Regions from separate parts of the Homo sapiens genome. Here region 2 is reported to be linked to region 1. The links are microRNA targets in miRTarBase. Many come from high-throughput screens and were not tested one by one. Region 1 holds a microRNA gene; the other region holds the end of a gene's coding sequence.
What was found. Region 1 holds the annotated microRNA hsa-miR-3942-3p (UUUCAGAUAACAGUAUUACAU, at 1,811-1,831, opposite strand). A microRNA usually pairs through its seed, bases 2 to 8, with sites in the 3' UTR of a target mRNA and lowers its output. Matches are read on the target gene's strand: a 7mer-m8 pairs with bases 2 to 8, a 7mer-A1 pairs with bases 2 to 7 and ends in A, and an 8mer does both.

Region 1 (4,069 bases):
AAAGAACTCTTAAAACTCAATAATAAGACAAAAACCCCAATTAAAAATAGTCAAAAGATCTGAAGAGACATCTCACCAAAGGAGATACACAGATGGCAAACAAACATGAAAAGATGTTCAACATCACATATCTTTAGGTAGTTGCAAACTAAAACAACAATGAGAGAACACTTCAGACCTACCAGAATGGCAAAAGTCCAAAATTCCTACAATGCTCAATGCTGGTCAGGAGGTGGAACAACAGAAACTCTCATTCATTGTTGGTGGGAATACAAAATAGTACAACTACTTTGGAAAACAGTGTGGCAGTTTTTTTTACAAAGCTAAACATAATCTTACCATATGATCCAGTAATTGTGCTCCTTGGTATTTATACACCTGAAAAAAACTTATCTTCACACAAAAACCTGTTCATGGATGTTTATAGTCGCTTTATTCATAATCGCCAAAACATGGAAGCAACTGAGATGTTCTTCAATAGGTGCATGGACAAATGAAATGTGGTAGAACCAGACAATAAAATTTTATTCTACACTAAAAAAAAAATGAGCTACATATACATGACAAGATACAGAGAAACCTAAATGCATATTAATACATGAAAGAAGCCAATCTGAAAAGCTATATACTGCATGAAAAGCTATATACTGTATGATTTCAACTACATTACATTCTGGTAAAAGCAAAACTATGTACACAGTGAAAAGATCAGTTGCTAAGGGTTAAAGGAGAGGGAGGGATGAATAAGTAAAACACAGAGGATTTTTTAAGGCAGTGAAATTATTCTGTATAATACTATAACGGTTGACAAATGTCATTACACATTTGTCAAAACCCATATTATGTACAACACCAAGAGTGAACCCTCACGTAAACTATGGACTTTGGGTGATAATAATGTGTCAATGTAGGTTCATCAGTTGTAACAAATGTACCACTCTATTATAAGACATTGACGGTAGGGGAGGCTGTGAATGTGTGGAGGTAGAGGGTATATGGGAAATCTCTGCATTTTCTGCTCCATTTTTGCTGTGAACCTAAAACTGTTCTAAAACATAAAGTCTATTTTTTGTAAAAGTTTTCTAAGGTCAACATAGTTAATACTGAAAAACAGCATTTTAAAAATCAGTTATAAAATAACTTGTAAGAGTTAAGGACATTCTTCCTAATTGTCCAATAACGTTGAAACACTTCAACCATGAATATATTTAAAATAAAAATGATAAATCGCTTTGGCGACACCCAGTAGAATAAGCTTGACTGGCTAAATAAAGTGACCATCTTTTCATCTTCATTTTCAAATGCCTCTGCATCATGACATTATTGGTAGGGATTGGAGCAAGAAAGAGAGAAGGAGGAAAAGAAACTAGTGTGATAAAAAAAGAAATGCTACAGAAATGGGGTTTATAGATGAAATAAAAGAAAAAAAAGGTCATAGGGAAGATGTGTTAACGAAAGAGAAAGAGTGAATTCCAAGAAAGTTGGCACTATTAATGAACATGCCGTCGACATTTTCCCAATTAATAAATGGTTCCACTAACCTCTTCTAGTGAAAGTATGTTTCTCTAAAAAAATAAGAGTCATGAGAAAAAAATAAACTAGTCATAGTAACTGAGAAAATACTATGCAATTTTTTTGTATAGAAATGGTGGTTTAATGAACAATGTTCCAAAACACTTTTCAAAAATTATATATATAATTAGATGTTCTGTAGTTGTCAGGCACTGAGGACACCTAAAAAAAAAAGGGAAGGAAAGGGAAGGAAAATGCACCATATTTATTCAGTGTCAGTGAATATGACACTTCAAAGATGTAATACTGTTATCTGAAATACTGTTATCTTCGCAGCCTATTTCAGGTAACAGTATTGCTTCTTTGAGGTGTCATACTGAAGACCAATCAAATACCAAAACAACGAGGTGAACAGTGAGCTATTCGGGTAGAGCTGAACATAGAATGGCTGGAATGCCTACACATGAATTCAGTGCTTTTGACTTTGTGTGTGCGTACATGGTAGCAAAAGTAGCAGAAAACTACAAGTTAGGGGTTCAAGTAAATCTGAAAAACATTTGGATAGTGTAACTTAATTCTTGTGGGGGTTACCAGCTTTTTGATAAAAGGTCACCAATAGTCATCATCCAGCCCAATTCCACAACCTATTTTTAATCCTGCCCATTGTCATTCTTCTGGAGAACTGGCACCTATAATTATCCTCACCTGTAGAAACCCTCTCATCTTGAGATTTTTGGCATTACCACTCTTTTCCTACTTTTGCCGAATTCTTGTTAATCCTCTTACTCCTTCAGATTTCCTATGATGTAAAATATGTAACTGTGGGTGTGCCTCAAGACTTGGGGGAAAGAACACTAAATATACAGAAGACATTTTCTAATCCTTTTCTGTCACTACACTCATTTCTTCACATAATTTCAGCTATCATTTTTATGGTAACTAATATAAAGCAACATCTGAAGGATGAGACCTCTCAATCAAGGAATCTAATCCAGAACTTTATTCCACAAGATATCTTTAAATTAAAATTTTACTGTATCTTGACAGTGTATTTAAAATAAAACTCTTTATTGTAATTTTGCTTCACTTTCCATCTTCCATTTTTACTTCTCTTTTCCTGGATATTTTTGTAAAGGTTTTATTTCTCCTTTTCCTCTCTTAAGCTTTGAATAATGACAATCCAATTTATCCTCAAACCCTTCCCTTAATGCTTATGTACAGTAACTTAAATGTGATCCTGCTAGATGATTTAATATTTGATTTTATATTGTCCTCCCATTGTTTAATGTATATACTATTCCCTTTTTAACTGACCTGCAAACTTTTCATAAATGTAGTATCTTTTGTATCATATATAACTCAAAACTATAAGCATTTGTAAAATTCTTAGTTATTGACTGAGGAGCTGAAAAAAAACCACTAATGATAAAAATCAATTTTCTTTTTCCTGTCATCTGTTGTTACAGAATTATATATGCAAAGCCAATGTATATATCTCAAATTTCTATTGAAATCACTGTGAATCTTAGATTTACTTGCCTTGTCCTCCAAGTGCAATTCTAAAAAGCGTAGATAAGCCACAGGTGCAAATGCATCAGCTGAATGTATGACTACTTCTGATGAATCCCTGAAATACAAAAATTTTACAATACATTTATATGCTACAAAAATTGTGACAAATCATTCCTCCTACTGACTAGAAGAGACTAAACATTCTTGTTTTATATTTATCTCCATTGGTATACAACATGTAGTGATTAATAAATATTTTTAATAACCCAGTATTTAATTGGGAAAAGGTTCAAGTATACTAAGCTTTTAAGAAAAAACAATGAGGCTTTCTATCTTCATAAGAACATAAGAGTTCAACTTTCAGGTTCACTCAAAGCTCTCTGAACAATTTTAAGACTTAAATTCCTGTTCAATTTCATTTTCACGTATTTGCTTGGTATAGGCTAAGCATTAAACATTAGTGCTTTATCTTCATTATTCTTTTCATTTTCAAGAGGTAATTCATTCAATGTTTCACACAAAATCTCAATTATCCTTCACAAAAGCAGTACTGGTGATGATTTTAAGCTCTAGATGAACTCTTCACACTGCAGTATCATTGCTATTAAAATTGATTGTCTGACATAGTAATGACCACATTCAGGTAAAATGGTATGAACTGCATGCTGGCACCATATGGATACATGTAAATTAACTCAACTTTTATCAAAGATACCCTGTAAAGCACATTTGAATAACTAAGATTATGTGTAAAGTTCTAATAATGAATTATTTTTTATTGTTTATTAAGAGAGTAATAATGTTTTGAATTTCAACTGAAAATTTAAAAATAGAAATTCCTCATATCACTTTAGTGCCTTGGGAAGTACTTCTATTGTTTATATTAATAGTTAGCATTTTGACCATTGTAGTACAGTAAAATAAATCCTGACATTGACATTTTGTCGCTAATGTAAAAATATTTTTGAATCGACTTGTATCATGCAAAGTTACTCGGTGGCAATAGAAGAAATCTCAAAATATTTGGCTCCAAATTATTAAACTT
Region 2 (4,069 bases), not on the chromosome of region 1:
AGCCCAGCCAGGAACCTGAATACCTGCAATGAGCCTTTTCTGTAGAAGCCCTTCTTAAATTTTCTGCAGCTTCCTTTTTTTTACAACAGTGGCCTTTTTTCCTCCAGTTTCCTCAACTAAGTGTCCAAGGCAAATGTGAAGTAGAAAATAAATACGTGAAACCATCTGAGTAAAATTAGCTGAATTTCCCTGACTTCCATATTCTTCCATTATTTCTCTTATCCCCTGCCAGTCACTTTAGCCTGAATTAGCTGTGAGGCAAACTATTTTGCCATTTCTATGTGTGGATCTTCCAGTGTGACTTTATGCAGTCATTGAAATTGTCTTAAGCACAAATGAAACCTCATGGAAATGTTAATTACTGCTCCTACAATTAACCTTCCTCATATATTCAACAAGCAAGGAATTATTGAGAACTAATACCTCTGAGACACTACTCCTTAGTAGGTTTCAAACCAGGAAGGAGGCAAGTTGAATAGAGTCTAAGTTTTATAATCCAGATCAACACAGAGAAGGGTACTGCTCTGGTATTGAGGGTGGGAGTGGTCAGAGAAGGCCTCCTGGAAAGGTTAGGCCTGCTGAATCTTCAAGAACAAGCAGCAGCCCAAGAGGGGAGGTGAGTGAGATGAGCCACCTTCCTATAGGTCTCTCCTCCTTCCATGCCCCCACTCCCCACCCAAACTTTTCACACTGGGGAGAAGTTTCTGACATGAACATCTAACTTGTTTTCTCTCTTCTGTGTTTCAGGGAACAGCGGATGAAAGAGCACCCCTCATTCGAACCTAAACATTGCCTTTGCTTGGTGAAGAAACTGTGTGAGCTGTCCTGACCTGGACGATGACGTGGGGAAACCCTCCACCTCCTTGCAGGCTTGTTGCCTGTTGAAAGAAGGAAAAAGACACGGCGCTGGCAAGTGATAGGAACATTCTGGCCAGAGGTTAAAGAGCAGGCTGACATGGCTGGCCATTAAGCTTTATAAAATCATGTGGGCTCTGAAATTGTTCTTTTATGTGTCTAGCAAGTATTTAATAAACCCTTGTATAGTAATTTTGTTGTTGTTGGGTGCTGGTAGCTCCAGAATTTTGTGACCACTATTGTGGGTAAAATGTCTCTGCATCACTTGTTAATGCTACTGGTCTAACTTCATTCAGTATGCTTCATTCACCGAACTTTGTGCTCAAAATGCGTATATACCATTTTATGTTGTATTCCTCCATTTCACTTGCAAAACAGAAGTAAATAAGAGTTCGGGACCCAGGGTAAAATGGTAGCTTCATCCAATATATCATTCAAATGCATCTGATTTCTAAAACATATTACATTTTATGCTGATCTTCAGTTCATAATTCTTCCAGGAAAACTCAGTCTTCCAACTGCAATAAAATACTGGGTAGAATCAAATGGGAAAGGGGTTGGGTGGGGCAATACCCATGAGTTGATAGTGATAAGCTCCTAAGGATTTTTAACTTGTACTTTTGTGAACGAAGAGAATGCATAAATAATGTTGGTGAGGATAAAGTACAGATATTTCATGTAGAATTAATTGCTAGTTATGATGCTTGTGGATAGTTAACTGTTTTTTTTTTAGTCAAAATGATCATGCTACGAAAAGATGCTTCTGAGAGAATGTAATGAGTAACTGATTTTTCTTCCTGAGTCGCCCTTGCCAAATATGTTACTGTATTAATTAATCTAATATTGAGTGATTATTTGTAAAATTATGAATATGGGAAATCCATCTATCTACAGCCTAAGTTACACATAAGTTTCAGAAAGTCTGATTAGACTAAAGAGATATTTCTTCTGGGACAGCCGCCTTCTTGGTAATTTTGAAGTTCTTTTTACAAGTTCCTTCCTCAGTTTCAGTTCTTTCCAGTGTTTTGTAGCTCACTGTCACTCACTGAATAGAGAAACGTGTGCCCTATACTTCCTGTGACAATCATTTTGCTGACAGAATGATGGATGTTTAAAATATTGCACAAAGTACTTTAAAGAAAGGTCTGTTAGGACCAGAAGCAGAGACACCACTTTTCAAAGGACTTCTTGGTTTCAGCATAACCTAAGACAGGGAATTGGGAGCCATCATATGTCACAGTGTTCAGAATTCAAGCATATTTAAGGGCATTTTCTTTGATTCTCAAAGTTCAGCATTCATTTTGAATTGAGAAGCCTATACATTTAGCTGACAAAGTGCTTATAGAATTTCTTAACAACTGAACCATTCAAAAGGATTTTTTTTGTTTAAAACTGGATTTCAATGTAAGCAAATGAAGAAAAAAATATAGATTTCATTTCCATAGCTTCTTATCCCTGTATTGAGGTAATAAATTGTTTTACTGACAATTTTTCCTTTTTCTACACTAAAACAATATGTGATATATTTCCCCTCTTGAAGAGGCAATTCATTAAACTCTCAAATTTTCTATAGAATCAAGATAGAACCTTTAGATACTCCAACTCACCAAAATGTAAAAAAACTAACAAAAATATTTGGTCTTCAATAATGCTAAATATCTACATTTTTAGAATTTATCAACATTTAACTAGATAATTGGGCATGTCTTAATTATGCATGTACTTATCCATACTAATAAAATTGACAATGCTAGTGCATACTTATTGGTTTAGTCCTATTATCAGGATATAATCATCTGTGAGGAGGATATTTTAAATACTGTAAATGATAACAGTTAATGATATACACATTTAGACTGAGTTGCACACTGGCAGGGAGACCAAAAACATTACTTCCATACTTGTGTCATGATTCTTTTTTTTTTGAGAGAGTCTCACTCTGTCGCCAGGCTGGAGTACAGTGGCATGATCTCGGCTCACTGCAACCTCTGCCTCCCGGGTTCAAGCAATTCTCCTGCCTCAGCCACCCAAGTAGCTGGGACTACAGGTGCGTGCCACCACGCCCAGCTAAATTTTGTATTTTTAGTGGAGACGGGGTTTCACCATGTTGGCCAGGATGGTCTCAATCTCCTGACCCTGCGATCTGCCCACCTCAGCCTCCCAAAGTGCTGGGATTACAGGCGTAAGCCACCGGGCCTGGCCTGTTTTATGATTCTTAATAGTTACTTGGTTTAAATCACATTTGATACTATCCTTCTGAAAAGTCTGAGACAGATCTACAAACTACAGTCAAAATTATAGATTAAGAGGAATGAATGCACCTATTTGGCTTTAAGTTGAAGATGAATTATTTCTCATGCTCATTTTCTTGCGGCAGTTATCTTAGAAAGACCCCCAAAGGCTTTGTGATTGTAAGCACTGTCATGATCACAGAATGCAAGCTTCTGGTACCATGATCCTCAACTTAGAGAGGAAGAAACCAAGACAGAGAGCTTAACTCACTTCTCTCAGGGAAAATTAGGAGTTGAGCACAGGACAGGAAATGGGCTTTGCCACTTTTAGCTCCAGGCTTTTCTAACCAGACTTGATTTCCTCATGTTCTAGAAAGATCACTAATGGTCAAGTGGAACAAGCACTACACGACTAACCCCTATTGGGGTTTTTAACTTAAGGGAGGCTAATTTTTAATTTAAACTGCTCGAGATATGAGTTCTGCAAAAGGTGGTCCGCATCCTTGGCCCTCTGGACATTATCACTAAATTGCTTGTGCCTGTTAACAAGAATACTGACCAGAATGCTCTTCATGTAGCTTATACAGTTGGTTCACTTCATGCGGTTCTTGACATGTTTATTTCTACCCTTAATGCAATGAAATGTTTCATTAATAAAAAACCACTTTATATAAAATTGCTCTAGAAGTCATATGTCATTGGATGTCCTGTTGTTTATGGAGTTTCCCTGGAAAGATGTTCCTTGACAGATGCAGCCCTGAGTCACACACTTGGGCCATGTCTGATTTCAGCTTCGCTGTAGTGGACAGTTACAATCAGCCTGACAAGTTTCACTCCAAGCAGTCCCACATTCTGCTTTTCTGTCTTAAGTCTTTCTCAAGAGCCCTCAAAGCACCATAGGAGTATCAGGGAGTTAATAACCCAAGGCAACCCTCAACTAAATGGGGCAGGAGTCAGTCAGCTGATAGATGTTTCAATCCTCA

Region 2: miRTarBase lists SCARB2 as a target of hsa-miR-3942-3p. Seed matches in the 3' UTR shown: 7mer-A1 at 992-998 and 7mer-A1 at 3,111-3,117.

Annotation. Positions count from the first base shown.
Region 1 is chr15:35,370,470-35,374,538 of GRCh38, forward strand. It overlaps MIR3942 (microRNA 3942), which reads right to left and starts at 1,895; the gene lies at 1,787-1,895. DPH6 (diphthamine biosynthesis 6) reads right to left here. Exons shown (of 9, transcript NM_080650.4): 8 at 3,052-3,139; 9 at 411-1,734. The coding sequence ends at 1,681.
Region 2 is chr4:76,158,430-76,162,498 of GRCh38, reverse strand. It overlaps SCARB2 (scavenger receptor class B member 2), which reads left to right. Exons shown (of 12, transcript NM_005506.4): 12 at 748-3,762. The coding sequence ends at 786. It overlaps LOC124900718 (a long non-coding RNA gene), which reads right to left. Exons shown (of 2, transcript XR_007058144.1): 2 at 3,732-4,069. Among named protein-coding and RNA genes, the nearest start is that of NUP54, 12 kb to the right of the region's middle.